Linked DNA regions of Homo sapiens: region 1 is linked to region 2. The links come from fine-mapping of genetic effects on gene expression. Tissue or cell type: naive CD4 T cells. Region 2 holds a variant in brackets; the other region holds the start of a gene. All regions are shown on one strand. Distances are from middle to middle.

Evidence for each region. PIP is the estimated chance that this variant, and not a neighbour inherited with it, causes the effect.
Region 1: TMEM245 starts here. The variant in region 2 is fine-mapped to the expression of TMEM245 in naive CD4 T cells (Schmiedel 2018, PIP 0.95).

The regions. Positions count from the first base shown.
Region 1 is chr9:109,118,512-109,121,327 of GRCh38, reverse strand. TMEM245 (transmembrane protein 245) reads left to right here and starts at 1,381. Exons shown (of 18, transcript NM_032012.4): 1 at 1,381-1,993. The coding sequence starts at 1,415. RefSeq lists silencers at 1,232-1,281, 1,422-1,591, 1,942-2,051 and an enhancer at 1,702-1,751.
Region 2 is chr9:109,143,985-109,146,484 of GRCh38, reverse strand. All of the region lies in intron 3 of FRRS1L (ferric chelate reductase 1 like), which reads left to right. Among named protein-coding and RNA genes, the nearest start is that of FRRS1L, 22 kb to the left of the region's middle. The variant G/T (reference allele first, on the strand shown) is at 962.

The DNA.
Region 1 (2,816 bases), 25 kb after region 2:
GACCTTGCTCTTGTTAATTGGAATCTGCAAGTGGTGAGCGACTAAACCTGCGTTTTGGTTATAAAACTCCAAAGGCCATCTGAAATACTGAGACCTAAAACTTACAATCGAGATGGATAGGGAATTACTTTTTCCTTTACTTCCTTTACTAAATCCCTTTGTCTCCAAATCTATCAAGCAATAGTTTCTTTATCTGCAAACTGTGGATTATGTTACCTGTCTTGTCTGCTTTAGAAGGGAAACAAAAATTATGTAGAAATTAATAGGAATACTATTGAAACAGGAAAGGGACAACTTGCAAGGTTTGAAGCAATCACATGTTGAGTACTCAGTCAAGGCTTTCTTTTTTTTTTTAAATCAAAATGTTGATTGGGATATTTTATGGGTAGCAGGCTTGGATCCCAGCACTTTTCCAATAGGGGAACAGAAGCACCTTGTACCGCCCCAGAGTTTCCCTTCCCCCACACAATAACCCTAAAGCAAAAGCTATTATTATTATCATCGCCATGTGACAGAGGAAAACTTGAGATTGGGGGCTTAACTGACATTACATCAAGTCTCAAAAAGAAACAGTGGCAGTTTGAGACTTTGATCTACGACTCTTTTAAGAGTTTAGATTGCGTCCACAGCGAAACCTGCACAAACAGTTGTCAACAGCGGCTGCAAATTACAGGCTTATGAGGAACGTTTGAAAAATGCCAAGAGTTCTTTCCTCAGGCCAAATACTATGGTAGATAAAAGTATAGCCTTTGGAGCCAGAATCCCTGAGTTTGAATCTTGCCTGTGCCACTTGGTAGCTGTGTGACTCTGGCTGCGTACTTAACGGCTCTGTCTCAGTTTTTCTGTTGGTAAAATGAGGATAATAACACCTTCTTTGTAGGGTTGTTCTAAGGATTAAATGAGTTAATAGGAGTGAGCCACTTAGAATAGGGCCTGTTATATGGTAATCTCTATTTAAAATCCTGTCAGATACACCAAAGAAAACACTTTAAAAATATCTGTTAAATAAATCAGTAAAACAGAATCGGGGCATTGGTTCTTTAAAAGTACTCCCCCACGGTATTCTAGTATGCAGCTTGGGTTTTAATATCTGAATGTGGCGCCTTTTGGGATCTCGCCTCGCGAGAAATTGACATTAACGAATGAGTGAAAGGAGCTTCCCCCCCCCCCCCCCTCCAGGAAGATATAGACCCTGCAAACTTGTTAGCAGGACCTTGCGGACACCAAGGAGGCGGAGGCGTTTTCCCCATTTCCCCTTCGGGAGTTGTAGTTTCCTGCAAGCGCTTGGTGGGTCTGTAAACCAGCGGGGAACTACAACTCCCACAATCTCGCGCGCCTCCCGCCCTGCCTCCCGCCCGCGTTTCTAGCCCGACTCCCATTACCGCCCCTCGGGGGCGGCTGTGGCGGAGGAACGATGGCCGACGGCGGCGGCCCTAAGGACGCGCCAAGCCTGCGGAGCTCTCCCGGGCCGGCGCCGCGGGTCCCGCGCGCGGTCGGGCCGAGTGGCGGTGGCGGGGAGACCCCGCGGACCGCGGCGCTGGCGCTGCGCTTCGACAAGCCCATTAAGCAGGCCTTCTACAACACCGGGGCCGTGCTGTTCGTGTGCCTGTGCTGCGGCGCCGCGGTGCTGGTCTACTTCATCCTGGAGGCCTTCCTGCGGCCGCTGCTCTGGGCCGTGCTATGCGGCACTTTTCTGCACCCCTTCAAGAGCTCGCTGACGCGCCTGGGCCGCCACTGGCTGCAGCGCCTGCACCGCGCGCACACGCCCATCGTCCTGGCCGCGCTGCTCCTGCCGCTCTGCTTCGTCGACTACGGCGTCGAGGCCCTGGGCGAGCAGGCGCTGCGCCGCCGCCGCCTGCTCCTGCTGCTCGGCGCCGGCGGCCCGCTCCTGTACGGCCTCTACTGCCTCGGCAGCTACTTGGGCGTGCAGGTGCTGCTGGTGCACGCTGCCACGCTCATCTGCCGCGGGCTGGACTACTTCAGCAGCCTGTGGGTGAGTGAGCGGCAGTCCGCCCCCGTCCCCCGCCCGTGGTCCCGGCGCTCTGGGGTGCAATCCTGCAGCTGTTCCTCCCGGTGCAGGGGCGACGAGGGGCCACACCTGTGCTGCAGTGACCGTCCGTCTCCGCTTTCCTTCTCACACCTCAGGAATTTGGCGGACATTCTTCCAAAAAGGGGGCGGGCGTGATTTGAAACAGCCTCCCTGCTTTTCGCCTTGTTTCAATCCTAATAGGCCCTCTTAGGGGGACAGTGCCCTGGATTGAGAATCGTTATTTCGCTTTGCAGAGAGAGGCCTCAGAGCATGGCAGTGGGGCTTGGTTTTACTTCTGGTTGGAGAGGGCGGGGGTGCTTCGGCCACCCTCAGTTCTGCGCATCTGAATGTCAGAGCTGGAAGGGACCTTAGAGATTCTAGGCCAACTTGCCATCCTGCAGATAGGAAAGGTGACCTCTTACCAGGCTAGGGCTACTTAGGGACAAAGAGGGGTTTGGGTGTCTTAGATTTCTTACAAGTCCTAAAACAAAGCTTGCTTCACTGGCTGGTGCTGCCTCTCAGTTCAGGTGATTCCTGTATAATTTGTGCAAGGCACTGGGTGCTGAGCTGCCTGTGCTTCTTCCTCTCCACGCTTTACTTTTAGGTAACTGCTTTTGTTGTGCAGGGACTGGTGTACCACAGCACACCTCCTCCCGCCTGGAGTAAAGCAGCTGACCGCGTGAAGGGGAGAGACGTAGATTTGTGATGCTTGGATTAACCTGAGCTTACTCTTACAAAACCAGGGAGCTTTAGAATTGGAAAGATTTCAAAGGTAATCTAGTGACAC
Region 2 (2,500 bases):
ACAGCTAGGTGTCCTCTAATTCACTTTGTTTCTGACACTACCTACCTGGAGATAGCATTAGATCCCACAGGTTAAGGGTTCAAAACCACAAGACTGCCCCCATTTCAGACACCCGTCACAAGCCCCAGGTTGTGACCTGTATTTCTGACCAGCCAGCTATAAATCTGGGGTGCCACCACCCTCTTCTGTTCAGTTAATCTCCTGGAGTGGCTCACAGAACTCAGAGAAACACTTTACTCATTTATTTATTTATTTATTTAATTTATTTGTTTGTTTGTTTGTTTGTTGAGATAGAGTTTCGCTCTTGTTGCCCAGGCTGGAGTGCAATGGTGTGACCTTGGCTCATTGCAGCCTGCACCTCCCAGGTTCAAGCGATTCTCCTGCCTCAGCATCCCAAGTAGCTGGGATTACGGGCACCTGCCACCACGCCCTGCTAATTTTTTGTATTTTTAGTAGAGACGAGGTTTCACCGTGTTGGCCAGGCTGTTCTCAAACTCCTGACCTCAGATGATCCACCCACCTCGACCTCTCAGAGTCCTGGGATTACAGGCATGAGCCACCGTATCCCACCTACTTTACTCATTTATTATGAAGGCTATTTTGAAGGATACAGATGAACAGTTAGATGGAAGAGACACTTAGGGGAAGGCATGGGGAAGGGAGTGAGGAGCTTCAACACCCTGTTGGGTGTGCTACCCTTCAGGCACCTCCATCTGTTCAGCAATCCAGAAGCTCATCCGAACCCTGTCCTTTTGGGTTTTTTTTATTTTTTAGACAGAGTCTCGCTCTGTTGCCCAGGCTGGAGTGCAATGGCATGATGTCGGCTCACTGCAACCTTTGCCTCCTGGGTTCAAGTTTGATTTTTCTGCCTCGGGCTCCCAACATAGCTGAGATTACAGGTGTAATCCCACCTGTAATACAAAAAACACCCAGCTAATTTTTGTAATTTTAGTAGAGATGG[G/T]GTTTCACACGTTGGCCAGGCTGGTCTCGAACTCCTGGCCTCAAGCAATCTGCCCACCCCAGCCTCCCAAATTGCCGGGATTACAGGCACTTCCGTGCCTGGCCTCTTTTTGAATATTTGTGGAGGCTTCATTATAAAAGGCATGTTGGATTACATCAGGGAAGTTACGAATTTGTTTCAACAGTTTTATCTTCCTCTGTACCCAGGGGCAAGAAAACCTCTGGACCTCAGACAGGACTGTGGCCAGGCACAGGCGGGGCCTCAGGTGCACAGGCAGCTGTCATCACTGGCCCCTGCTCTTCCCTGTGCCTTGCTGCGTTTTTCTCTCTTTCCTCTGGAGCCCCATTCTTTTGCCACTTCACTGGGCCAGGCTTGTTCCCAAACTATGAGACTTTCTCAGTCCTCTGTGCTTTTGCCCTTGTGGCTGTTTCTGCCTAGAGCACCCCGCCCTTCTCTTCACCTGGCCTATTCTGAGGCTTGTGTGGGGCTACAGGGGAGAGAGGAGGGCGGCTCAGACCAAAGTTCCAGCAGTGACAGTGCTGAGGGCTCAGATTTTGAATGTTTTGAAAGTAGCACTAACTGAGGCCAAGGCAGGTGGATCGCCTGAGGTCAGGAGTTCGAGAACAGCCTGGCCAACATAGTGAAACCCCGTCTCTACTAAAAATACAAAAAATTAGCTGGGTGTGGTGGCGGGCGCCTGTAATCCCAGCTACTCGAGAGGCTGAGGCGGGAGAATCGCTTGAACCCAGGAGGCGGAGGTTGCAGCGAGCTGAGATCGTGCCATTGTACTCCAGCCTGGGCAACGAGAATGAAACTCCGTCTCAAAAAAAAGAAAAAGAAAAAGAAAATAGCACTAACTGGCTGGGCATGGTGGCTCACACCTATAATCCCAGCACTTTGGGAGGCTGAAGCAGGTGGATTGCTTGAGGTCGGGAGTTCGAGACCAGCCTGGCCAACATGGTGAAACCCTGTCTCTACTAAAAACACAAAACTTAGCCGGGTATGGTGGCAGGTGCCTGTAATCCCAGCTACTCAGAAGGCAGAGGCATGAGAATTGCTTAGGAGGCAGAGGTTGCAGTGAGCTGAGATGGCGCCATTGCACTCCACCCTGAGCAACAGAGCGAGACTGTCTCAAAAAAAGAAAAAAAGTAGCACTGACTGACAGGATTTGCAAGTGGATTGGATATATGGGTTGTAGGTGTGTCGTAGGAAAAGACTGATAAGCAGTCTAAGCAGTGGCTGGTCTGGTGGCTTTATTCTTGGAGAGGTCACCAGGAGAATAGCCTTCAATGAGTTCCAGTCCAAGTAGTAAGACAATGGGTACCACTGGTAAGACTGCATGGATAGATATTAGTCTACTTATCTCCTGCCCTAGAGGCAGCAGGAGAAACAGCAGGGCATGCCACACCCAGAAGCTGGCTTGCATTGAAAGTGACCACTTCCTGTCCTAAATGCATTTGCACTCGTGGTAGGGCTGTTAAGATTAGGGGAGTGAGGCAGAGTGAGGAGCATTCAAATTTTGTTTGATATTTTGGTATC